Regions from separate parts of the Homo sapiens genome. Here region 2 is linked to region 1. The links come from fine-mapping of genetic effects on gene expression. A gene starts in region 1. The other region holds a variant in brackets. All regions are shown on one strand. Distances are from middle to middle. Region 1 holds the start of PTK7 (protein tyrosine kinase 7 (inactive)). Region 2 overlaps PTK7 (protein tyrosine kinase 7 (inactive)).

The links. PIP is the estimated chance that this variant, and not a neighbour inherited with it, causes the effect.
Region 2: its variant is the best candidate, but not a certain one, in a credible set for the expression of PTK7 in coronary artery (GTEx, PIP 0.83).

The regions. Positions count from the first base shown.
Region 1 is chr6:43,074,073-43,079,305 of GRCh38, forward strand. PTK7 (protein tyrosine kinase 7 (inactive)) reads left to right here and starts at 2,242. Exons shown (of 20, transcript NM_002821.5): 1 at 2,242-2,495. The coding sequence starts at 2,417. It overlaps KLC4 (kinesin light chain 4), which reads left to right. Exons shown (of 16, transcript NM_201521.3): 16 at 550-1,021. The coding sequence ends at 600. KLC4-AS1 (KLC4 antisense RNA 1) reads right to left here and starts at 2,158. Exons shown (of 2, transcript XR_002956347.1): 1 at 1,623-2,158; 2 at 261-1,195. RefSeq lists an enhancer at 1,377-1,900 and a silencer at 2,230-2,329.
Region 2 is chr6:43,135,301-43,140,533 of GRCh38, forward strand. PTK7 (protein tyrosine kinase 7 (inactive)) reads left to right here. Exons shown (of 20, transcript NM_002821.5): 8 at 3,549-3,682; 9 at 3,836-3,971; 10 at 4,106-4,225. Among named protein-coding and RNA genes, the nearest start is that of SRF, 33 kb to the right of the region's middle. The variant T/C (reference allele first, on the strand shown) is at 2,569.

The DNA.
Region 1 (5,233 bases):
GAAGATGAGCCAGGGGATTGCAGTCATTAAGGAATCAGGCAGATAGCTTGTGGTGAGTGCTGACCACCAAGGGACAGTTTCAGGCCAGACATAGTAGCAAATAAGTTAATAAGGAGGGAAATAGGAATATTCTGTAAACTGGTACTTTGGAATTATGAATAATTTAAGAATTATTTGGAGATACGAATTATTTTTTCATCCTGCAGCCGCCTTAGTAGTAGATGAGAATGGAAAAAGAAAAGTATTAAATAATCCCCATCTGAGAAAACACTAGTGATATTTTAATGGCAAATGACTTCTTGTATCAACACACAAGTATATGCCAGTATTCATGTGGTTCTTCCAGGTAGCTTCTCCACCAGATTGTGGCCTTCTGGAAAACCCTAGCAGAGGCTAAACAAAGTCCCAGGTCCAGAGATAGACTGGTCCAGAGACAGATGTGATCCTAGGTCCAGAGATACACTGTGACCATGGGATGGATGGACTCTAGGAGCCAGTCTTTGGGAGGCCGAGGTCCCTGAGCTGATGGGGTAGTGTTGTCTGTTTCAGGTCTCCCGGGGCCTCAGTGCCAGCACCATGGACCTCTCTTCAAGCAGCTGACATTCAACCCGGCCCCCAGGTCTGCTGGGTCCCCCCACCCCCACAGCCCTCACAGCATTCCCCATTGCTCCTGGCTCTTCCCCACCCCTAGGTGGGACAGTGAAGGGGAGCAGTTTAACCAGAAGATTGCTGCTGCCCTTAGGGTCTCAGCTCCCTCCTCAGGAATCCCTCTTAGGAAGGACCCTCAGGACACCCTCTCTGCACCCTGTGGTCCTCTAGAGTAGCTAGCTCTGAGGCCCCAAGGTGGGTACAAAGCAGGTATGGCCCTCAGAGATGCAGCCTGCTGCTGGCTTTTCAGTCAGAGGGTTGGGGGCTGGCCAGCCAAGCTGCCTTGCCCTGGCCGCTCTTACTCCCTCCCTCTGCTGTCTCACTTCAGGTCCATGTATTTCACTTTTCTTAAATAAAAGAATCAGGTAACCTTTCTGTGACTTGAGTCCTGATTGAAGAGGGTATGAAGCAGGGCTTGTGTTGGGGCCCTTCACAGAAGGTGAGGGGCAGTGATGGATGGAGCAGCAGGAGGAGTGTTGATTCTTGGATCTCTCCTCTCTTCCTCCCGTTGTTTGTATCATCTCCAGCAGGGCCTGTAGGAAGGCATCTGGGGGATGGGGAAGAAGGAGGCTCACAACCCAAGGAGAAGGTGCTGTGGACTGGGTTGTCAGGGACATGTGGTGGCCATGTGGCAGGACCCTGGAGTCCTGGCGCCACTTCTCCTGGCTGTGAGGCCCTCTGTGGCTGCCATTCCTCCTCCCAGCTGCTTGGGGGAAGGGAGGTCTAAACAGGCCTGGGGGGCCCTCCGGAACCAGAGGGGAGACAAGGCACTATCCATCCCCTCTCAGCATATCTTGGAGGCCTGAGCAGCAGCTGGGGCCCATCTTCTAAAGCTTGACTCCTCCTGACCCGCCTCCTACACCCCTTGCTGCTTTCACAACAAAGAAAGAATGTGGGGGTGGTGGCGCTGGGGGTGGGGGTGCCTGGAACAAGGGTTGTGCTGGGCCTCCCCACAGCTGGAGACTTGGCCATACCCTGACACAGCCCAGACTGCCTGGAGATGGACTTGGGATGAATTTGTCAGTTAGCAGACTTCAGCCTGGCTTTCAGAGCCCAGCGTGTTTCTACCTTTGGGTTCAGATTGGTCTACAGCCAAACCAGACCCCAGTCATGCACACTTCAGCCCCTCTCCGGGCTACACAGCATCTTCAGGTTACTTGGGGACATTAAGGACACCCTGCTGTTCTGGGTCTGCCGTTAAGATTTTGGGTTGCTGAAGAGTTGGCGGGGCCCGCCTCTTCCCCTGCCCCCACCTGGAGAATTCTGGGGGAACTGTTGGCCAGAGCCTCCAGGTATGCCCAGAATGGACCATTCTCCCCAGGGTCCACGGAATCGCACAAGTCACTTAGGTTCTCCCGGATCCCTGCAGAGTCGGTGGTGGGTACAGCAAATACTCAGGTCCCCTGCACTTCCCTGAGCCTTGCTCTCTCTATTCTCCATCCCTCTCCAGACCCCTCCCCCTACTGAGCTCCTCCCCGCCTCGGCGAGGAGGGGGCGTCGAGGGGGCGGGGCGCCGTGCGGGGGCCGGAGGGGAGGGGGCGTCGTGGGGCGGGGCTTGGCGGCGGCGGCGGCGGCGCGCGGGGACTCGGAGGTACTGGGCGCGCGCGGCTCCGGCTCGGGACGCCTCGGGACGCCTCGGGGTCGGGCTCCGGCTGCGGCTGCTGCTGCGGCGCCCGCGCTCCGGTGCGCTCCGCCTCCTGTGCCCGCCGCGGAGCGCAGTCTGCGCGCCCGCCGTGCGCCCTCAGCTCCTTTTCCTGAGCCCGCCGCGATGGGAGCTGCGCGGGGATCCCCGGCCAGACCCCGCCGGTTGCCTCTGCTCAGCGTCCTGCTGCTGCCGCTGCTGGGCGGTGAGTACCCGAGAGTTGGGGGCACAGAGCTTGGGAAGCGCGGGAGTCCCGTGGGCAAAAGGCTGCGCCCGGGGCGGTGGGTTTGGGCGGCTGGAACGGCCCTGGAGTAGTGGAGAGGCTCGCTGGGGGTGCAGGCTTGCGGCGGAAGGGCGCAAGGAGCCCGGGTGTCGGGAGGCTGGCGAAGCCTCCAGGGACGCGGTCAGGGTACCCCTCCCACTCGCGCCGCGGGGACGCATTTCCAGCCTCCCTGAGTTTTTCTGGTCTGAGCCGAGAGTTTGCTCGAGAACTGCCGAGAGTTGCTGGCTCTCGGGCCCAGATGGGGAGTTTCTTGTCGGGGGAGAAAAGACCATCCGCACCCACCGTGGGGAGCGCGATGGAGAAAAAGGAATTCCCCACCCCACCCGGCAGGGTCGGCCCAGGTAAGAGTTGCTGGTTTGGGGCCCGATGCCGGACAGACCTGCGGCGCGCAAAGCGCGGAGCTTTGTTACCTACGCCGACCCGACGTTCCCGGCTTCCCTCCTCCGAGTTCCTGGGCAAAGCTGAGACCCCAGATGGCCCTGCGGGTGAGGGCGGAAGAAGGGAAGAGTTAGGGGCCGCCCCCATCCATGGCCTCTAGCTACTGGTCTGGAACCCTGCGCCCACTCCGTGCCAGGGCCGAATCCGGGGATCCGAGGGTCCCAGGCTGTCGCGGTGACTAATGTGTGAAGGCCGCTGCCAAAATCGGGCATGGCCTGGCTGCAAAGGTGCGGACGGGGTTTGTTCTGCTCCTTCCTGGATTTCCATCCTGACTGTCCTCACAGAGGAAAGGAAGTATTTCTAAGGGAAGAAAGGCAAAAAGAGCTCATTCTGGCTTTTCTTGGGGGGGGGCCTTAGCATTTTAACGAGGGTGTGGCCCTCATCACCAGGGCAGACAGCACCGCCCCCCCAACTCCCGCAGCTTTTATTTCCTGGCTTGGTCACACCTAAGAGTCATCACTGAGGTGTTGAAGTGCCTTACAGGAAAGCACCAAGCCACCCGCACATCCCAAATAGCCCGGACTGGAAATAAAGCCCCCGACCCTCCACAACACTCCTTGGTGGTCCTCGAAGCAGCTTTCTCTTGGGGAGCTCTGTCGAGGAGACCTGTCCTAGGTGATCACCTTCCATCTCCTTTGAAGGTGGCAATGGGAAGGGCATGGGTAAGGAATTGCCTTTCTAATATCTTTCTGGCCTGCCAGCTGTGGAGGGGTTTTGGTGCTGGTGGAATCAACATCTCCCCTGCCCCCAGTTGTAAAAGGAGAGGTAAATGTAACCCAGGAAAGAGACCAATCTCCAGGGATTTGGAGGAGGTGTTTCTGGAGTTGCCCCGTTTTTCTTGTGATGTGTGTGGTGGTTATTGCTCGTGGCAGAATCCACATCTGCTCCCAGAGGAAGTATGGAAGTTTTTTTGCACAGCCAGGATGGGGGCCCAGCCATCTGGGCGAGCAGCCCAAGCTCACAGGCCCCCTGGCTGTCCTGGTTGGGTTTTGGTGTGTGGGTCTGCCCAATGAGGCTGCCTTCACTGCTGCTGTTCAGGGTACTAGAGTCAAGGGGAGTTTCTGGTGAAGATGGGGCTCTTGCTCAACAAATGCTGAATTCCTAAATTCCTTCCATGAGAAGATGACTCTGATGTTAATTGACTTAATCTGGTGACTGGTTGGTGTTTAGTGTGTGTGCGCGCGTGTGTGTGGGGGATCCTGTTGGGGGAAGTTAGGGCAGGCTGAGGGCTTAGGACAGGAGGTCTGTAGTCTCCTCAGGGGTGGGGGGATGTCTTGTGCTCAACAAAGGAACATTTTAATGAGAGCCTTAAATCAATTCCACCAAATGTGCCTTGTTGTGGAACCTGTCCATGTGCTGTAAACAATTTCAGTGGAGGCCGAGGCGCCTGCTGTCTTCTAGTGAAATCCTGGGACTCAACCCACCCCCAGACGCATGACTTCAGGGGCAACGGTTTTTTAATAGATCACAGTAGATGTTTGCATCTCATTGTTTAATTGTGTAATTAACTGGAGTTGTAGTGAGATCCCACTGTTAATAAGGCTGGAGTAAGGAACCTAGGCTGGCTAGGTTTGTGGATTAGACCATTTTAAAGTCTGGGTAATTATGCCATAAATGGCAGAGTTACTTTCCAAACTTTGAGATGCTGTTGTAATAAATATGGTGGAGGAGGAGGAGGCTTGATGTTTGAAACTATGGATTCTTAACCCCAACCTCTTGTACAGTCAGCTGTGGTCACTTCTCATTCCAATTCCCATCCCCCTCCCTGGTTTCTTTCCTCCGGGCTCTTGTTTCTTTGGGGAAATTGAGTCGTCATGTTCTGGGATAGGCTGTCTGCAGATTCCTCAAGGCTCTGCAGCCTGTAATTCAGGCCTAGGAGTTGCTTTTATTAGTGATGGCTTTTCTCAGCTGTTGGGAAGTATGGTGGCAGGGCAAGGGTGCTCTTCTTGTCACTTGTCAAATGATATACTCAAACTCCTGGTGTTCAGAGCAGCATTGAGTGGTGGACAGAGCTCAAGCAATGGAGATAAAGTATGGTCCTTCCTTGGCATCTGCAGGGAATTGGAATAGGACTCCCTGAGAATAACAAAATCCAAGGGTGCGGCCAGGCCTGGTGGCTCACGCCTGTAATCCCAGCACTTTGGGAGGCCGAGGCGGGCGGATCATGAGGTCAGGAGATTGAGACCATCCTGGCTAACACGGTGAAACCCTGTCTCTACTAA
Region 2 (5,233 bases), 61 kb after region 1:
CAGTCAACAGAGATTTGTCGAGCACCTTGTGCTAGCTCTTCCCAGTACTGGATGCAACTGTGAACAAAGCAGGCAGAAGCCCCTCTCCTTGTGGAGTTCATATTCTAACAGCGGGGACAAAGCCAGTAAGAAAAACTATCAAATGAACAAATATAATTTTAGGTGCCAGTAGAACAAGGGAGAACAATGAAATAGGGCAAGTGATAGAGAAAGGGCAGGGCCAGTGAGAGTTTAGGGAAGACTTCTGTAAAAGGTGCATTGGAGTTGGTATTTAAATTAAGAAGGGAGCCAGCCATGTGATAGGCCCTGAGATGGAAATGGGCTTGTATGTTGGAGGAACAGTAGTCGCCTGTGTGGCTTGAGTTGAATAAACGATGGTGAGAGGGGTTGAAGTTGCCTGAGAGGTGGAAACTAAATCCCATAGGCCTTGTAAAAGCATAGTAAGGACTTTGGCTTCGGCATCAGTTATCCATTGCTACATAGCAAACCACTTCAAAACGTGGTGGCACTTTGGGAGGCCGAGGCAGGTGGATCACTTGAGGTCAGGAGTTTGAGACCAGCCTGGCCAACATGGTGAAACCCCATCTCTACTAAAAATACAAAAATGGCTGGGTGCAGTGGCTCACGCCTTGTAATCCCAGCACTTTGGGAGGCCGAGGCAGGTGGATCACGAGGTCAGGAATTCGAGACCAGCCTGACCAACGTGCTGAAACCCCGTCTCTACTAAAAATACAAAAATTAGCCAGGTGTGGTGGCATGTGCCTGTAATCCCAGCTACTCAGGAGGCGGAGGTTGCAGTGAGCCGAGATTGCGCCACTGCACTCCAGCCTGGGCGACAGAGCGAGACTCTATCTCAAAATAAAATAAAAAATACAAAAAAAAAAATTATCCAGGCATGGTGGCACATGCCTGTAATCCCAGCTACTTGGGAGGCTGAGGCAGGAGAATCGCTTGAACCTGGGAGGTGGAGGTTGCAGTGAACAGAGATCGCGCCACTGCACTCCAGCCTGGGTGACAGAGCAAGACTCCAACTCAAAAAAAAAAAAAACCAAACCGTAGTGACTTGAAACAACAAACAACAGCCGTTGACATGCTTATGATTCTGTGGACAGGTTCAGGTGGGCCCGCTCGTCTACCTGGTGTGCTATCGGCTGGGTGTACACGTTTGCAGTCAGCTGATGGGTGAGCTGGCCTGGTCCCTGGCGGCCACACTCACCTGTCTGGCAGTTGACTGGGGCTATTGACCAGGGTGCCTTAGTTCTCCTCCACATGGCATCTCCAGTAGGCTAGCCAGGCTTCCTCACCTGGCAGCTGGGTTCCGAGAGGGCAAAAGTGGAAGCTGCAGTACTACCACTGTGTTCTGTTGGACAAGGGAAGTCACAGGCCACTCAGATTCCAGGGACTAGAAAAATACACCATGACCCAGTTCAGTGGCTCACGCTGCAATCCCAGTATTTTAGGAGGCCAAGGTGGGAGGACTGCTTGAGCCTAGGAGTTTGAGACCAGCCTGGACCACATGGCCAGACCCCGTCTCTACTAAAAATAAAAAAAAAATTAGCTGGGCCTGGTGGTACGCGCCTGTGGTCCTAGCCACTTTGGAGGCTGAGGTGAGAGGGTTGCTTGAGCCTGGGACGCTGAGGCTGCAGTAAGCCATAGTGGCGTGACTGCACTCCAGCCTAGGTAACAGGATGAGACCCTGTCTCACACACACAAAAAGAAATAAACTCTACCTCTTGATGGGAAAGTGTCAACATCACATTGAAAAGAGTTGAAAGGGATGGGAGGATTGTTTATAACTATCATTGCAAGCAGCCTACCACACCACATTGGATGGGAAGGTCTTGCAGGGTTTTGAGTGGAAGACTGATTTTTCAGAAGATCGCTCTGGCTGTTTTGAGACTAGAATGTTAGGGCCAAGAGTATAAACAAGGAGACCCATACTAAGTAGATGACTATAATAGTCTAGGGGAGATACTGAAGGAGCTTGAACAGAGGCAGTAGCGGTGGGGGTGAGAGGTGGTCAAATTCAGGATATATTTAGGAGCCCCAGTAGATAGGGTTTGGTAGAACGAGTGTGATGGGGGTGGGGTATAGAGAGAAGACAAGGCTAGCTTTTTGGCTTTCTTAACTGACTAGATAGTTCTATTGACTGAGATAGGGAAAATGAGTGAGCAGGTTTTGGGGGAAGTCAGGTGTTCTCTTTAGCACACGTAAAGTTTGAGATGCCTGTTGGATATCCAGTTGGAAATGCCAGTAGGCAATTGGATTTATAGGAATCAGGATGTAGTTTTGGGAACCAACCATTCATGTTGTATTGAAGGTTGTGGACTGGATGAGTGAGTGTTGCTAAAACAGAACAGATTTCTGAGGACTGCGCCTTGGCATTTTATGGTGTAATAAGAAGAACAAGGGTTTCAGAGTCATATAGACCAGAGTTTTAAATTCTGTCACTATTAGGTATTAGCAAATCACCATTACTTCTTCTTTTTTTATTATTGTTATTATTATTTTTTATCTTTTATTTGAGATGGAGTCTCACTCTTTCGCCCAGGCTGGAGTGCAGTGGCG[T/C]GATCTCGGCTCACTGCAACCTCCACCTCCCAGGTTCAAGCGATTCTTGTGCCTCAGCCTCCCCAGTAGCTGGGATTACAGGTGCCCGCCACCACACCCGGCCAATGTTTTTGTATTTTTAGTAGAGACGGGGTTTCACTATGTTGGCCAGACTGGTTTTGAACTCCTGACCTCAAATGATCTGCCCGCCTTTGCCTCTTAAAGTGCTGGGATTACAGGCGTGAGCCACTGTGCCTGGCCACCATTACTTCTTTGAACATCTGTTTTCTTAGCTGTAAAGTGCGTGTTGGAATACATACCTTGGGGGGTTTGTTTTTTTTGTTTTTTTAGAGATGGGGGTTTCACTCTGTTGCCTAGGCTAGAGTGCAGTGTCTTACAGCAGCCCTCCCGCCTCGGCCTCCCAAAGTGCTGGGATTACAGGTGTGAGCCACCACTCCCTGCCTACCATAGGGGCTTATAACTAAGATAATGTTAACTAAGTTAATTAATGTGACAGTTAACTAAGATAATGTTCAAAAGGTGCTGGTGGCCGGGCGTGGTGGCTCATGCCTGTAATCTTAGCACTTGGGGAGGCTTGAAGCCAGGAGTTTGAGACCAGCCTGGGCAACATAGCAAGACCCCATCACTACAGAAAATAAAAAAATTAGCCAAGTATTGTGGTGCATGCCTGTGGTCCCAGCTATTTGGGAGGCTGAGGTGGGAAAAATCACTTGAGCCTATGAGTTCGAGACTGTAGTGAGCCATAATTGTGTCACTCTACTCCAGCCTGGGTGACAGAGTGAGAACCTGTCTTAAAAGAAAAAAAATTTTAAAAAAGGTGCTGGCACCTGGGTCTTCCGTAAAGGGAAACTCCTGCCATCTGAGGAGCATGGGGCTTCTGAACTCAGGGCCTAGAATGGTAGTAGGATTTCTTGGAGATGGATCCTTTAGTTTTGGAGACCTGTGAAGCAGCCTTCACTGTTTCCTTCCTGTCTGTCTAGCTGTGCCCTCCTGGCTGAAGAAGCCCCAAGACAGCCAGCTGGAGGAGGGCAAACCCGGCTACTTGGATTGCCTGACCCAGGCCACACCAAAACCTACAGTTGTCTGGTACAGAAACCAGATGCTCATCTCAGAGGTGAGAAAGAAGAGTGTTGCTAGTGGATGGGCGGGGCCTTCCCTCCACTTGCCCTCTTCTGTGCTCACCTCCATAGCACTCTTACCCTGGAGGCAGCCTCCAGGGAGAGGTGGGTGTGGGTTCAGGCTCTGAGGCCTCTCACCTGTGCTGCAGGACTCACGGTTCGAGGTCTTCAAGAATGGGACCTTGCGCATCAACAGCGTGGAGGTGTATGATGGGACATGGTACCGTTGTATGAGCAGCACCCCAGCCGGCAGCATCGAGGCGCAAGCCCGTGTCCAAGTGCTGGGTGAGCCAGCATGTCTTGGGGGAGCACCCTTCCTGGCTAGGCAGGAGAGGAAAGGGGAGGGAGCAGCAGGCCTGGCCACGGCCTCTCCAGCGGCCCCAATTCCTCGTCTTTCTACCCACCCTCTGCTGAAACAGAAAAGCTCAAGTTCACACCACCACCCCAGCCACAGCAGTGCATGGAGTTTGACAAGGAGGCCACGGTGCCCTGTTCAGCCACAGGCCGAGAGAAGCCCACTATTAAGTGGGAACGGGCAGGTGGGTACAGTGCCGGCATAGGGTAGGGGCAGGCAGGCAGTTCACTGATCAGATACATACCTGAGGGCTGCTGGGTGCCCCGCACTGTGCCAGGAAATGTGGAGATTAGACAAGCAGTGCAGGGCTGATGTATAGTTTAGTTAGGAAGGAAAAAGCCAGACACAGAAGAGGTCAGATTATAGCCTTGGACAACATGGAAGACAACTCAAGGCAACAAGTGATTGGATTGGTTCAGACAGTGCTGTAAAGTCCTCTCTTCCCCTTTTCCAAAATAGTTTATCTTTTCCAACATAAAAATTACATGGAGGCCGTGCATAGTGGCTCACGCCTGTAATCCCAACACTTTGGGAAGCCGAGATGGGTGGGTCACTTGAGGCCAGGAGTTTGAGACCAGCCTGGCCAACATGGTGAAACCCCATCTCTACTAAAAATGCAAAAGTTAGCCAGGCGTGGTGGCACATGCTTGCAATCCCAGCTGCTTAGGAGGCTGAAGCAGGAGAATCGCTTGAACCCAGGAGGTGGAGGCTGCAGTGGGCCGAGATCATGCCATTGCACCAGAGTCTGGCTGACAGAGTGAGACTCTGACTCAAAAGAAAAAAGAAACAAAAGTTACATGGGCTCCTTTACAAAATACTGGAAGAGGCCGGGCGTGGTGGCTCACGCCTGTAATCCCAGCACTGTGGGAAGCTGAGGTGGGTGGATCACGAGGTCATGAGATAGAGACCATCCTGGCTAACATAGAGTAGTGAAACCTCGTCTCTACTGAAAATACAAAAAATTAGCCAGGGGTGGCGGCACGCATCTGTAGTGCCAGCTACTCGGGAGGCTGAGGTAGGAGAATTGTTTGAACCCAGGAGGCGGAGGTGGCAGTGAGCCGAGATTGTGCCACTGCACTTCAGCCTGGGTGGCAGAGCGAGACTCCATCTCAAAAAAAAAAAAAAAAATATTGGGAGAAAAAATGTACAGTCCTGCCGTTTATCATCTTTGGGTGTATGTCTTCTTTTTCTG